2 separate regions of the Homo sapiens genome follow, and region 1 is linked to region 2. A link means that fine-mapping ties the variant in region 2 to the expression of a gene that starts in the linked region. Tissue or cell type: whole blood. Region 2 holds a variant in brackets; the other region holds the start of a gene. All regions are shown on one strand. Distances are between the middles of the regions.

Region 1 (8,166 bases), 20 kb before region 2:
CTCTCTGTAGATTCTGGCCCTATGGTTTATAAATGGGTTTCAAAAGAAAGTGGTATGAAGGAACATAGTATTTAAAAACCAATAAAATCCAAAGCTGTCCTCACAGCGGGCTGGCGGGGGAGGTGTTGCAGGTGAAGCCCACCTTCTGTGAGCCCTGTGCCTTCCTACCCAGGTTGGATGGGGGATGAGGGCTCCAGCGGGGAGGGAGGAAGCCAACCATGATGGTTTCCACAGCTTGAAACCCAATGTGGTTTTTCTTCCTAAATGTAAGCCAGTCAATAAGGGTCAAGTACAACTGGCCTGTGGGTTTCCACCTGCCTCTCCTGACTACTCAGAAACCAGGCCCTCTGGTTTCAAATGTAAATTCCATTTCCTGGTACTTCACCATTAGAGCTTTATTTCTGTCATTTTGAAGACTTTTACGCATTAAGACTTTCTTTTTAAATTTTCGATATGCTCAGAGATTTTAAACTGTTAAACTGAGGGCACAGGTGTCATTCTGACATGGCTTGGTTGGCACCCAGATGTGAATGAGACCCAAGTGTCCTGTGGGTGAGGGCCAGGGGCCAGCCAGAGACCAGAGGCAAACTTGATCCCTTCTGACTTTTGCCGAGGGCCCAAGAAGCCCTTCCCTGACAGCTCCAGGCCCCTTGCTGACACCTGCTCCGAACGTGCCCCCACCTGAACTGTCCACTACAGTTTACCTTCTAGGGTCTCAGGACTTTAAGACCATCTTCCTGAGCAAGGACTAATTCCTACATTCAAGAAACTTCAAAGTCATAAACATTTCAAGTACACGGGGATCCACAGCCCAGGAAAAGGATTCCTTTCTGTACACTCAGGGACTACACTAAGGGAAGCTTGACTAAACCCATTTGTATCACAGCCACAGGAAGTAGTTCACAGGGGCACACACTGAAGCCCACCTCCCTCCCTCGTACTGGCTGGACACTGTCTCTGGAGCATCCAGCAGGATGCCTGTGATGGGCAGAGCCTTCGAATGCTGATACTCCGGAAAAGCACGACTTCCTGCTTTCGCAGATGGCCAGCACCAGGTGACCCTGGTGATCCTGGTGAAGTTTTGCATCAGGTGAACCTAGTGAATTCACCTCCCATGGCAAAACTTTAGTCCTAATGAAGACCGAATGTTTCAATTTATTTTAAAGATATATAGTTTCACTTGAAGTGCAATTTAGCGTTTTATTGAAAATATGTGGGAGTTTTAGAAGCTTGAAACTTTCAGCAGCCTGTAGGACTGTTTGGAGACGAACAGACATTTGTGGTACTTGACTAATTAGAAGCTCTTGGATGTCACTCAAGCCACTCCTGTGGGGTGCCCCGAGAATGTGGCATCTTCCCATATGCAGAGAGCACACCAGCCTTACCCACAAGGTGCCTGTGTAGCAGGGAGAGATGGGAAACCTTGTCACAGCTGCCTGACAGTGCCCTGTTATTCCTCAGCCTGGGACTCCCGCCTCCTCTTGTCTGTCCAGGAAACTTATTCCCTCATCTTCTTACCCTCAGGGGTTCAGAGCAAAGGCCATCTCCTCCTTGACTTCGCCAATTAGAATTGGCTTCTCATTCATCTCTTACGCATTTCTTTCACTTTACATAAAAACGGCATGAGCTTTGTCTGTTCACTCACCTTCTCTTCCATAAGACTGTGAACTTCTTGGGATGTTGTAATCATTTTGTGTCACAAATGACCACCACAGTGCCAGATGTTAGTGCTCGATAATCACTTGTGGAATTGCATTGACCACACATCAGCTAATCTGGTACTCATAGAAGCAGCAGTCACCACGGAATTCAGTCTCAAACTTACTGTGCTTGAGTCAGAGGAAATGTGAGATACTCAGAGGTCTACCAAGCTCTTTATCTTCTCTTCAGTCCTCTCCCATTCCATCATCTGGGCAAGAGCCTTTATCAAGTTCACTTTCTTTTCTGGTATTTGGTAAGGATAATTTGGATTTCGGTTACAGTGGGTCTTGATATTATACCTACCCTAGATTTAGTGGTTTTGGAGGATTTCATTACATAATCACATGAAGTAGTGTTCCATGATCACTAGAGATTTTGGTATACGTGTATTTTACCAGGAGAAAAACAAAGGCAAACAGATTTATTGTTCTAGCAATGAATTCCAGTGAAATCTGAATGATTTTCCCTCCCAAGTTCAACAGAACAGTTTTGTTGCCTTCAAATTTGGGGAACTAATGAATGTCCCATGAAATATTTCCTTTCCAATTTTGTCAGATCAGGTCAAAATACTATTGTTGGTACAACACAAGCCTTGACTTAGGCCTGCCTGCCTTGGGGCTTTTGTCCTGAACAGGATGCCCATGAGTTGGTATAGGTGGCATTCAGCACTCCTGTCTCCGGCCAGTATTACTGGCTCCCCTTCCGAGGGAAGCATGGTCGGGTTGGTCCTCCCTCATTCCCGGAGTCTGTGTCCAGTTGGAGGTCCATCTACCTCTTCCCGTGCTGGGTACAGAGTGTCTTTGTGTTTGCCTAGAGCCAGGATGCCTGAGGGTCCCAGCAGGGATACAGGGCACTAAGAGGCTGGTTCTGAGAGCACAGATTACTACCCTCCCAGCAGAACCTTAAAGGAAGCAGGCAAAGCAGTTTTCATGGGCACTTAACTGGCACACCATCTTGAAAAGGAGCAAAAAGTGGTGTTTGGTGTCCTTGTGGGGTCCTGCACTTCTGTTTTTAAAGAATAGTCATTATAGATCCTTTAATACATAATATGAAAATCAATTGCACTATTTAAATTCACAAAGCACTCCCACATCCGTGATCTTGCATAAGCCTCTTGGTATCCAGTAAGGGAGGTGAGACAGGTTTCACTCGTATTTTCCTCTTAGAGATGAGTCGTGGGAACAACGTGCAACGGCACCCAAGTTCACCAAGCAAGGAAGGGGCAGCGCCAGAGTCGTGGTGCTAAACTCCCGGCTTCCACTCCGGAGCAGCACCGCTCAACGCGGGTCTCCAGGAAACCCAGAGAGCCTATCTGACCTCACCTCAGCCCGGATGCAGCATGACTTTAAAGCTCTTATTTAAGGACATTCTGACCTCTCTACCCACCTTAGCCAAAATAGACTACACAAGTATTAACGCAACATCTGACTAGTCCAGGGAGCAAAACAACGCGAGGATTTTGCAGTTCGCACTGCAAAAGAGCAAGCAAGACTTGTCAACTCACCACCGCACTCGTTTCTGCTCTTTGCAGGTGGTGATGGTGCTATGTCAATGGGCTCGGTTTCTCCCTGTTTTTAAATACAAACTCAACACGTGCACAAGAGGAAAACAGAGCAGGCTGCACGGGGTCGTGAGCCCGCATTCTCGGCCCTGCTGCAGCCCTTGGTGAGCATTTCTAGGAAAAAAAAGAAAAAAGTGTTTCCCTTTAAGGCGGATCCCGAGCGGCGCTGCCGCCAGCAGCGGGTCTGAGGGCCTTGCCCTAGACCCAGGTCACCCCGCCCGGGTATTCCCAGCGCGGGCCCTGATAAGCCATCTGTGTAGACGTTTCCTAGAGCGGGACCGGCTGCGGAGGGCGGATGCGTCTTTGTTCTGCAGCCGCGGGAGGGAGGCGCCCCGAGGGCTGCCTGAGCCCCCGCCCTCGGGCGCCTTTGTCCGCTCCGGCGGAGGGAAGGCGCCGGTTCCGCGGAGGGCGGCTCCTGGCCGAGCTGCAGGGCCCGCTGGCAGGCGGCGGTCCCTCGCTCGCTGTGCCGCTGAGGTTTTGGCTGCGTTTGCTGATCAACAATTAAAGTTTGGTTCGGCAGAGAAAAACATGATGACAAAGTGTGCATAGGGATGTTTTAAGGAAGGAAAACATAATGACGGCCCCAAGCTGGAAGAAAGAGCAGCCGGGCCGAAGTTGCGTGACAGGAACGCCCGCGACTGCGCGGCTCCGGAGCAGCTGCACAACTCGCCCGGGCCGGGAGCTGTCCCGGGCCGAGGCTCATTAGGTATGCGGCGGCTGCGGGCACTGATTGGCGGGCAGTGCTGTGGGCGGGGCCGTGGGCGGAACCGCGTGGGGGCGGGGCTGCACGGAGCTGGTTCTTGTAGGAAGGAGTAGAAAGAGGAGGAGGGATGGGCACCTGGAACCACAGGGCGGCGCTGATGATTGGAGGTATCGGCAGAGGCGGGGCTCTCCCGGGCGGGGCGGTGGGCTCTCATTGGCAGTGCTGGTGGTGGGTGGGAACGGGAGGGGTGGTGAGCGCTGATTGGCCGTAGTGGCGGGGCGGGGCGGAGGAGGAGGAGGTGTGCGTGCCGGGGCGCGGAGCGGCGGGCGCTGATTGGTGGTAGTGGTGGTGGGCGTGGTGTAGGCGTGGCGCGTGGCCGGCGCTGGTACTCGCAGGGGAGGCGGAGAAGGAGGCGGAGGGAGCGATTGTGGCCCCGGCCGCGGTGGCCGGCGCGGCCTGCCCTTTGTGACCGCAGCTCGCGCCCCACGCCCCGCGCCCATGGCCGCCGTGCCGGGCTCCCTGGCCACGCGTGCCCGCCCGCGGACCTGAGCCCCGCGCCTGGGATGCCGGGGATGCGCGTCCCCCGGCCCTGCGGCTGCTCCGGGCTGGGCGCGGGGCGATGGACCTGAGCATGAAGAAGTTCGCCGTGCGCAGGTTCTTCTCTGTGTACCTGCGCAGGAAGTCGCGCTCCAAGAGCTCCAGCCTGAGCCGGCTCGAGGTAATGCGGCCGCCCTCGGGGCGCGCAGGTGCCGGGCACTGAGCGGGCCGTGGTCGCCCGAGCCCGCCTCGCCACCCCTGGGTGGACCCCGAGACCCGTCAGGGAGTTCAAGTTACTGGAAAGCTGGTCCGGTTCCGAAAATCGAACCAAACGGCTCCAAACGTTATCGCTGGGACTCCGTAGTAATTGGGCGGTCCGTGGGTCCTCGCGGGGGCAACTCCACCCCCACTGCATTTCCAGCTGGTTTCTCCGCCGCTGGCTGCACGGGGTGTGGGATGGTCCCCTGTGGGCCACAGGGAGCCCCGGGTGAGGAGGGGCTTTCTCTGCAGCTAGACCGCCGAGTGGCGCGGAGCGCTCCGCGGGGGTCCCTCAAAGTCCCGAGTGGAGAAGCCCCCCAGCTCCGCCCTCCGAGGCGCTGATCAGGTGCTGTCTGCCGTGCCCGGCCGGCAGGTTCCACCTTATCTTGTAGCTCATTCGTGCACTTGAAGTCAGTGTAGAATTCACAGAACGGGGAAGAACAGGCAGCAGCACAATCTGCTTAGGCGTCTAAAACGGCGTTCAGGAGTAAAGAGCCTGATGCAATATCCTCGCAGCGCCGAGGCTGATACAGATTCGTCCTGAAAACCCAGAGTACTCCCAAAGCCCTGTCCTTTCTACCTGTCCCGCATCTTGGCATCTTAGAGTTTCCTTGTGGACGGTTCTCTCGTGGTGTGTTTTATTTCAACCATCAAATCTTATTCTCTTATTCCCAGTGTCCAAATCACATTGTTGAATCTATAGATGACAAAACAGTGAAACGTGTTTAAGTGAAAAAGACATGGTGATGGGGAGACTGAGGCTGGGACCCAAAGATTTCGCCTGACACTGTCCCGCCTTTGCCTCAAGGCTGGCACCTGTGGGGTTTTGGTTGGTTTGTTTCAGCTGGAACAATCTCAAATGTTTCATCTTGGTTTTCTTTGTCCCAGCTGCCATGATATTAGACACAGACATGGGTTCTGTAACCATTGAGAGACCTGAGGAATAGACAAAAAAGTAGAAGAGAATTACTTGTTTAAAAAGTTTCTCTTATGGCATCCCTAAATCAGAATTGGAAGTACTAGATAGGATCAGTATGGCCGGTTCCCGAGGGTAAAACACATCTTTCAAACAAAACTGTTAATCCAGTACTGGAGGAGGGCTTGCTTTTAAGTCTAATATTGAAAGAAATGAAGCACACCAGTGAGGCAAATCATTTTCCTGGGACACAGGCACTTAAAAAATCTGAAGTTGACAAGATCAGAAACTCAGAACAGTATTTATCTTTATCCGGATACATGTCTTTGTTTCCTGTTTCATCTCAATGCCAAGTTTATTAGACAACTCCTTGTCTCCTTCCATTTACTGTCTTTGCCAAGAAGAGGTACACGTGTGAGCACACTCCAGGCATTGTTTATGAAGAGCAGCACTAGACACTGGCTGACCAGTGGGAGTTCAGGAATCTGCCTGATTCTGGATACACACGCCTCTGGTGTCACAGGGTTCTGCAAGGAGGGCTGGGCTGCAGGCGTGCCTCCGGAAAGAATACAGTGGGAAACAAGCGGGGGGGGGGGTGGGGGGGTGGTGGGAATAGGAAACGAGGTTTCTTCCATGTAGAAATAAAATTTCTAGAAGTCATACATAAACCATCAGCGATGTAGGAGGTCAAATGGGCTGAAAATACATGTAGTCTAAGAGCAAGTAGTCAATTAGTGCTTCCTGTGTGCCAGATCCCGTACTAGGTGCTGGAGGTCTCACTAAGATGGTCAATAATGGCCGGGCGCAGTGGCTCATGCCTGTAATGCCAGCCCTTTGGGAGCCTAAGGCGGGCGGATTATGAGGTCAGGAGATCGAGACCATTCTGGCCAACATGGAGAAACCCCATCTCTACTAAATATACAAAAATTAGCTGGGCATGGTGGCGCGTGCCTGTAATCCCAGCTGCTCAGGAGGCTGAGGCAGGAGAATCGCTTGAACCAGGGAGTCAGAGGTTGCAGTGAGCCGAGATTGCGCCACTGCACTCCAGCCTGGCGAGAGAGCGAGACTTGTCTCAAAAAAAAAAAGGTCAATGCTAATACAATGCTCTCTTTTTTACAAATGCATTCCCCAGCTTTCTATTATTTGATACTTGTGAAAATCGGGGTAGCATATGTAACTTTCCTCATTCTATTGCTAAGGGGAAGAAACCCTGAGAGTTTGAGAGTCTTGTTAAAAGCTTTCCAAGGAATTCATTCTGCAAGTGTTTATGGAGGACCGGGTCTTGGGCTGGTCTTTTTCTGGATACTGTGTCCAAAAAGACACGAGACATAGAAGTCCTGGCCTCAGGGCACTTCCACCCAGTGATGAGTCTCACAAGCAGCTGACTTTGTGCCCCAGTCCAGTAAGTTCCTCTTCTGCGCCCTACCCATACTTGAGAAGGCTGCCTGTTCGTTTGTGTGTTCACAGCTGGTTATAGGCCAAGAAGCACTCATCAAAAAATGTAAAACTGAGCAGGGGAGGTCTGTCAATGGATTGAGGTTGAGAAATAGGACACAAAGTACTGAACACAGATGTGTATTTCCTCTGTGTGGATGAATGAGAAAGATAACTTGTTTTATAATAGGAAACATTTTAAAATTGTTTCTGTGAAATTTATATTTTGAAATATACAAAGACTTTGAAAATTTTTGTTATTTGAAATTCAAAGTCTAGTGACATAAACAGGAAATTAATGTAGTTACTTTAAGTTGAAAACAATATCTTCATTTAAAAGGCTTTCAGAGAGAGACTCAGTCCTAATGTTTTCATACTTGATTTTATTTATTTTCATTTTTTATTTTTTTAAATAATGAGAAATTTCTAAAGTTCCTTCTTTTTTTTCCTCTCTTTTACATTTATGCTTGGCAAAACTTCTCTGAACATACTTGATTTTAAAATAAATTTTACGTCCATAACCCAACATTTGCTAAACCCTAAGTGACAGAGAAGTCAGGTTACTTAATCATATTTGGAAACAGTTTATTAATTACAGATTAAAATGAAATTCACTGAATATTTTTGTCCTCTATCAGCATAGAACCAAGTGAGATGGCCAAGTTGTTGACTCTGGCAACTATAATTTTGGGGGTTTCTAGAGGAAAACTGGGTATCTTCCATAGACTTCCATGGGTGTGCCCCAGAAAGGTGTCAGGTCTCAGTGACCGCAAGACCCTCATCCCCAAGAGAGCTCTGCTTTCAGGGCATTGACAGTATTGCCTAAGAACCACGACACATTGCTGGGCAGAGTAACCTGCATCTCATTCAACAGTCCACTTCATAGATGAGGAAAGGGGACACTGGCCCATTTGCTAAGCTGGAGTTACCGTCACCTGGCTGGGATAGGATACCCTCTGAGTGTCTGGCCTATGAGTCACTGCACTTATCTACAAAATACGTTACCCATGCCAGTTGCCTAATGAGCTAAGGTGGCTTTGAGAGCAAGGAAATGCA
Region 2 (8,201 bases):
GAAATGAGATTGGAGCCCTGATCAGCCTGAGCTTGAAGTCCACATTACCTTGAGATATTTCAGTTATATGAGCCAAGCAATTTCTTTCATTGTTTAAGCCAGTTTGATTTGGATTTTCTCTGACACAGATAAAGGCGTTGTGACACACATATTTTATCTCATTCACTCTGTACAAGAAGCTTGCCTGAGGATAAGTATGTTATATACCTTTTGCCTAGATGAGGAATTGGAATCCAATGTTGAAAAGGTCCTCTGGCCAGGAGCAGGATAGGTCATGTCGGATGATGGTGGAGTGGGTGACTGAGATGGAACAGCTTTTCAGCAGCTACAGGCTAGTGATACTTTCTGAGCAGAGGGGCATGAATCTGGTAATGTATTTGTGTTATTGGTTCATTAGAATAAATGGGCACATATGGTATATTTAGCAGCTTTGGACTTGTTGAAATTATGCTAAATGGCTATATGTGAAAAATATGGGCATGTCTTAATAGGATGTATATTTGGAAAATATAATAATACTTTTAAATTTGCTTCAAAACATAGTAGAAATGCTTTTTCAGTTTTACCAGTCTATTTGAGATAGTAAACTGGGATAAATAGGATTAAATTTATTTCATTCGTTGAAAAAAATAAATATATTATCTGTCTGCAATCATTCTTTTTATCCTTTCAGGGTATTTAGTAGGTTTAAGGATACTTTTGTTCTTTTTCTTTGTACTTCTCATTCTCATAATACTCTCCCAGGCTAAAATCCAGAATATGCAGATAGTAATTTAAAGAAGTGAGGATTCAAAAAAGAAAGACAGAAATAAGTACTGATTTTAGGAAAGGTATATTATTTATTACATGTGGCTTTCCAGTTTTAAAAACTATTCTGTTATAACTCTATAATAAATGTAATAATTGTATATGCATATATTTGTTGGTAGGATGAATTTTATGAAAACATGGTAACATTATTTCTTTACCACTACTTTCCATATGATTTTATGGTCAAATATTTGGCAGCGCTGCCTTTTAACTGCAGTGATTATGTTTTGATAAATTAGTAGAAGGAATTTGTTATTAATATAGGAAACAACGGAGAAGGTAAAGACTCCTGAGGGGCCCTGGGTGAAAGTAGCATTTTTGGAGGCCTCCATGGCCCTCGGCAGAAACACATTTTATGCTAAATGCATATTTAAGTGTTTGGCCTCATGAAGTGTGTAACCCAGTTGCATAGGTTTTATCTGTATTAACCATCATGAATTCTTTCCTTTGAATTTTGTTCTTGATTTTTGCTACAGCCGATGGGTAACTAGTTCTCTCAGAATTCAGAAATTCACATGAATTTCCTGCTGCGCTTCCTGCTGCCAAGGCCTATGTTGGTGGGATTATCTCCTTATTCACGGGAAAGGAGCGGAAGGCCATTTGCATTTACCTTCTGTGCTACTGCCAGGCTGCTCAGGAGTGGAAAGAATCATTTACGACTTGCTATTTATACATTGATCAAATGACGTGCCTCACGTTGTAGTTGATGCCACACGTGCTTATATAACCATTTCAGAACATCTTTCCCTCACGCTGTTTACCATGAAGCATTGCTGTTTCTAGCAAGCTATTTGGTTGTAAAAGATCTCATGTTGAACTAAATAGCAAGAGATATAATGAGGAGATAGGAGGAGAGAAAAAAATCAAGATGAGAAAATGAGTAGGAATGATTAGAAAAATATGTAAAAGAGAACAAGAATAACTAGTCCGAAGCTAATACATTTTTTAAATCTTCAAATAAGTGTAGGGAGATGTTTTCCAATTGCCTGAGTATTCCAGTTTGTAAATTTCCCATTTTCGAGTAATTACAGATTAATAAAATATACTTGACACTAAAACTTGTCTAAATAAAATTAAACTTTTACGCCAGGCACGGTGGCTCACGCCTGTAATCTCAGCACTTTAGGAGGACGAGGCGGGCAGATCAGCTGAGGTCAGGAGTTCGAGACCAGCCTGACCAACATGGTGAAGCCCCGTCTCTACTAAAAATACAAAAATTAGCTGGGAGTGGTGGCATGCGCCTGTAATCCCAGCTACTCAGGAGGCCGAGTCAGGAGAATTGCTTGAACCCAGGAGGCGGAGATTACGGTGAGCCAAGACTGCACTCCAGCCTGGGCAACAAGAGCAAAACTCTGTCTCAAAAAAAAAAAAAAAAAATTAAACTTTTGATAATTCAGTATATCAGTGTCTCAGTGCTCCTGAGTCATTGATATAAGTACCAAACTTTGCAATACACCATGGTAGCTATAGCAATTTTAACCATAGAAAAATAATGAGAATCATCTAATCTCACCCCAGACAGCCCAACAGATCTTTCTGTAACAACCCCGAAAGTAGATCTAAATCAAGGTTCTGCCATTTATCTCACACCCGGAACCCAGTTTTTTAAACATCTTATGCAGAAAGAGCCACTTTTTAGGGGCATCTGCTTCATCTCTGTAGTACCTCCCACTCCACTGAACTCAGGGTCCTATTGAACCCCAGTTTGAAAACCAGAAGTCTAAAGTCTGTGCAGACATTTATCCAGGGGGAGGAACTGAGTCACAACCTCCTTACTTGGCTCTCCCTATATTTCCATTCCTTAATCCTAGAGTGGAGTAAACAGAACCCCTTGCTCTCTCTCAGGCCTGACAATTTTCCAAACCGCAGTGGAGATGGGGTTGAACTGGGGCTGAGCCTATGACATGTTCCGGAAAGTGCCCTTCAGAGTAAATCCCCAATCTTAAGTTGTTTATTCATTGTTTTCTTTCATAAATATTCTACATGAAAAAATTAGCCTTAGCTTGCCGGTTGTTTGGATTTGTGAATAAACATGACTTTGGGCCTAAATATATATCAACTTAAAAAAAAACAGAACAAACATCTAAAGAATATCTCACCATCCACGATGGGCCAGGACTGGAGCCCTAAAAAAGTTGAGAAAGTCTTTCTTTGAAGCAGAACAGAAATAGAAAACTTGTGAGGGACCATTCTGTAGGCCTCATAGGAAAAAAAGCCATGAGGCACTTTAACTGAATGTTGCCTGCATCTGAGTGGTACCCAGGGACAAGTGCTTTGGTGCCTTTTAGACTTAAACAATAATCAACTTGTTATGTTTTCCCTGAGACTCCAAACTTACTTCTGATTTTGTCTCCCTCTCAGAGATAAACAATCCTGAATTCAATAACTAGAAATTCTTAAAGGGGAATTTTTTTTTTCATGCGCCGATGGATTGTTGAGTCAGGTTAGATGTAAGAATTTTGAGTCAAGCATTTTTAATTTTTGTAGCACCAAATTGGATTGAATTCACATGAATATAGAGATATTGGTTACTACCATACAAATAAGGTTATCCAACTTCTAGACTGTTCTATACAGTGGCTAAGAGAAGCGTTGTCTACCCTCTGGGGGACTCTGTTTCAAAATATACCATATTGTTTGCATTCTAAATTTTATTTTGTTGCCAGGAAGCAAATATCCTGAGGAAATTACTTATCATACACTAAGCCATTGCCTCCTGGGAGTCTTTGTGAAAAATTCCAAATCTGTCCTGAGTATGGACTCAGAATGAAAGCTAGATGTGTGGAAGAAGGCACTCCCCTCCATTCTTCAAGATGCACTATAATAAAAGGCACCAAGACAGTCTCTCTCTCTCTTTTTTTTTTTTTTCTTTCTGAGACAAGGTTTTGCCTTCTCGCTCTGGCAGAAGTGCAGGGGCACGATCATGGCTCACTGCTGCTTCCACCTCCTGGGCTTAAGTGATCCTCCTGCCTCAGCCTCCTGAATAGCTGGGACCACAGGTACATGCCACCTGGTGCCCGGCTAAAGGAAAGTCCCTTCTGAAGAACCATCTCAGTATTTGTTTTGCTTCAAATTGCCCTGAATGCCATAACATTTTGTTTCTGTTTTTGCATACAGCTTTGAGATCTAATTCACATACCATACAATTCACCCATTTAAAATGTACAATTCCATGTTTTAAGTGTATTCACAAGGTTGTGCAACTGTTACCACATCTGTAATGTTTTCGTCCTTCAGAACAGAACCCTGTCCCCCTTTTCCCCTCCACGACCCCCTGCAGCCCTACATCCACTTTCTGTCTCCGTAGAGTTGCCTATTCTGGGTATTTCATATAAACGGAATCATACAATGTGGGGTTTTGTGGCTGGCTTCTTTCACTTAGCCTCATGTATTCAAGGTTCGTTCGTGTTGTAGCAGGTATTTCTCTCTATTGCCAAGTAATATTCCACTGCATGGATATACTACATTTTTTTAATCCATTAGTAAGTTGATAGACATTTGGGTTGTCCCTACTTTTTGGCTGTTGTGACTAATGGTGCTGTGAACATTTTTGTACAGGTTTTTGTGTGGACATATGTTTTTATTTCTCCTGGGTTTATACCTGGGAGTGGAATTGCTGGATCTGGGATGGCAACTCTATGTCTGAGCTTTTGAGGAACTTCTAGACCATTTTCCAAAGTGATTGCAACATTGTACATTCCCACCCAGCAGTGATAGATGGAGCTTTTTTTTTTTTTTTTTTTGACGGAGTTTTCCTCTTGTTGCCCAGGCTGGAGTGCAATGGCACAATCTCGGCTCACTGCAACCT[C/T]TGCATCCCGGGTTCAAGCAATTCTTCTGCCTCAGTCTCCCTAGTAGCTGGGATTATAGGCACCTGCCAGCACACCCAGCTACTTTTTGCATTTTTAGTAGAGACAGGATTTCACCCTGTTGGTCAAGGCTGGTCTCAAACTCCTGACCTCAGGTGATCTGCCCATCTTGGCCTCCCAAAGTACTGGGATTACAGGCGTGAGCCACCATGCCCAGCCGAGATCCATTTTTTCCCCACTTGTTATTGTTCACCTTTTGAATACAGCCATCCTGGTGGGTATGAAGTGGTGCCTCCTTATGGTTTTGATTTGCATTCCTCTGATGACAAATGATGTAGAGCATCTTCTCATGTTTTTATTGGCTGTATGTTTTTGGAGAAATGTCACATCAGGTCACTAGCCCATTTTTAAAAATTGGGTGATTTATCTTTTTATTGTTGAGTTATAAGAATTATGTATATATTCTAGATACAAGTGCCTTCTCAGGCATATTATTTGCAAATACTTTTCCCCGTAGTGGGTTGTATTTTCATTTTCTTGATGGTATTGTTTACAGCAAAAATGCCATAACTTCTGTGTTAACCATATTATTCCACCATAATTTGCAGTCGCTTTGAAAGGCCTACACAACGCTGCTTAGATATTCACATTTCCAATAGGGAGTTGTATTCAGGATATATTTTTGCAGAATTAAATTCACCATGCCAGGTGCTTTTTGCTTTTGCTTTTCTTGTGTAATCGAGCAAGGAAGGCAAGAGGGCTATTCAGCTTTGGGTCTCTCATGGTGCACAGGTGAGCGTGTTTCCAGGGAAATCATTTTACCTCTCGTGCAAGCACTCCGACCTTGTGGGTCTCAAAAGAAGTGGGGTGCAGATGGCTGAAGTCTGGTCTATTTAAATAGTCTTGTATGGTGTGCACCATTTTATTTTCATAAGGGCAGGAGTTGGAACTGCATCCTTGGGCTGTAGCTGTAATAAAAGCGTCAAAGAGCCTAATGTGTGCAGCCCCGCAGTCCTACCATGGGCGGCATTATGCTGCCTTTGCCCTCTTGTAGACACTCATCAAGGTGCTTTGCTGGCAGAAGGAAATCAGGACCCAAGGACCGTGATCTGATAACAGGTGCTGATTTAGTGCCTTAGGCTAAATCACATCAACCTGCAAAGTAAAGAGCTTTCTATTTTGGTTGCTGCGCCTCTGGGCAGCGTAATGCCTTTATGTCTCCACCACTGGTCATGTGTTTTCATTTCAGGTCTTATCACTACAGAAAACAATCTTTTGATTTGCTCTTTTCCATAAAATTTGTGTGCTATTTTTATTTTGATGTCACCTTTGAAAGATCTCAGTTGAATGTGTGGAGGGAGGTGTATCTGTGCTTGTGTGTGTGCGTGAGTGCATTTCTATCTAAAATGCCACCTCACGTGGCCCTTTCACATTAAATCATACTCTACATGTTAATTTATTGTTCTAATATCATATTTCACATGCTAATCATTCTACATGCTAATTTTTTGTTCTAATGTCACATGGCATTTTACGTGCCTAGATAGGAAGCATGATATTTTAAAACTTAAATAGGAATGTCTATTAGAGACTTATAGATATCAATCCCGATAACATAATTGGATTAAGTCTTAATAAGCACATTTAAGCATCAAGCAGAACTTTCACATCCCTATATTTAGTCTCATTCGTATTTTAGGCTACGTGACCACCCAAGGGATGCCTTTTAAGGAGCTCGTAATCTAATTAAGGAGATAAGAGTCATTGTCTTGAAATTATTGTAAATGCTGTAAGACTTGATGTCATCTACCTGTTGTAGATTGCAAACACAATGTGGCTTTAGAGGGGTAGAATGTCGTTGATAAAATGAACATGGATCTACTGGCAACACCCAAGGCCCTTGGGGGCCAGGGCCCCTGTGCAGGTGACTTGGTTGCAGGTTGCATCATCTCCCGCCAGAATCTGGTTGGAGGCAGTTCTAGGAGAGGCAAGAGGGATATTCCCAGTGAAGAGTGCCACGTGGTCGCAGTGAAGCCCTGGAACGGGAGGGCCTGAGGGGCCAGCTGTGGGAAGCATGATATTTTAAAACTTAAATAGGAATGTCTATTAGAGACTTATAGATATCAATCCCGATAATATAATTGGATTAAGTCTTAATAAGCACATTTAAGTGTCAAGCAGAACTTTCACATCCCTATATTTAGTCTCATTCGTATTTTAGGCTACGTGACCACCCAAGGGATGCCTGTGGCACTGGCGCACAGAGCCCTGGTAGGTCTGCGTTGGGTGAGGAAGGCTCGTAGTCTTCTCCTTCTTTACCTCCATTAGTGTGGATCATTATTTTGCTGTGGAAATATGAGTGTTTGATCACAGTTTGCTGCTCCAGACATCAGGCGCCCCATGTTCTGAGCACTGTCCATATTTATGTTGACTTCTTACAGCAAGCCCATGACAGAAGGACTTTTAAAAACTCTGATGCTCAGGTAAGGCCCGAGGCACGGCATATGAGGTGCCTGGATGCCACCTCCCCCAGCTGGGGATGGCCCCGCCCGGGAAGCTCCCTTACGATCCCCAGTGAACCCAGCTCCGGCAACTTCAGTTACCCCAGCGGGGAAGCACGCACCACTCTGGGCATTATAAAACATGGAGTTTATGTCTTTATTAATTTCTGAATTTTTTTTTTTTCAGTTTTCCACATACTCATTCCAAACCCCCAAATAGATCATATAAGCAAACCTATTTGGGGAAACGTTTTTTAAAAAAAGTAAGACATTCCTCATTTTTTATTAGTGAGCTGTTATGTTCCCATTCAAGTAAACTCTGAAACTTACAAACACTGATACGAAAACAATGATTTCCCAGATCATTTGTCCCCGTCACATCTCCATGCAGAGCTGTCCACAGGGGAATGTGCTGGTCCAGATGCATTTTACGTAGAGTTGCTCACAGTGAAAAACTTTCAATTGGCAGAGGCACCTTCTCTGGAGCTTTTCCATGGAGGGTTAATCAGGATGGAACTCTTCTTAATTTTATTTTTACTTCTTTCCACCTTTACACACTTTGTTTCATAGTCTCGCCCTTTTCTCTTCGTGACTTCTAGGAGGGACACGTTAGGACGAGTTGGAGAAGTTCTTAGCTCTCATCTCACCCCTTCCAACATGTCAGCTTTGCGGCAATCCAGTTTCTGCCTAAAACAACCTCGATTGCCCGTTTGGTGGGTGCTGAGGGGGTCTTTGGCTCCTCTAACACCCCTGACTTGTTATCGCAAACAACAGTACGGGGGCATTTATTTGATACACCTGGGCCACAGCCATTCCCTGGCCTCCCTTCTGCAACCTCGCAATATTCAGTATCCTTCCTGTGCCTGTTAACTTTGTCTAACTTGAGCCTTAGATCACCCGGAATGTGCCAGCCATGTTCACGATGCCCTCCCAATGACAGGTGTTGCCCAGGTGGAAGCATCTTCTGTCATGTCCCCTCCCATGACTCCTTCAGCAACCTGCACTTCCATGCCAAAGCCCTTTACCTGGGCGCCCTCGACTCCAGAAGGTGACTGGTCGGTAGCTGCCCCCATGCTAATCCCAT

Evidence for each region. PIP is the estimated chance that this variant, and not a neighbour inherited with it, causes the effect.
Region 1: it holds the start of RPS6KA2, and the variant in region 2 is fine-mapped to the expression of RPS6KA2 in whole blood (INTERVAL, PIP 0.91).

What each region holds. Positions count from the first base shown.
Region 1 is chr6:166,623,438-166,631,603 of GRCh38, reverse strand. RPS6KA2 (ribosomal protein S6 kinase A2) reads left to right here and starts at 4,353. Exons shown (of 21, transcript NM_021135.6): 1 at 4,353-4,683. The coding sequence starts at 4,585. RefSeq lists silencers at 3,594-3,653, 3,904-4,073, 4,134-4,483.
Region 2 is chr6:166,603,493-166,611,693 of GRCh38, reverse strand. The region is part of intron 1 of RPS6KA2 (ribosomal protein S6 kinase A2); the gene reads left to right. Among named protein-coding and RNA genes, the nearest start is that of RPS6KA2, 20 kb to the left of the region's middle. The variant C/T (reference allele first, on the strand shown) is at 4,619.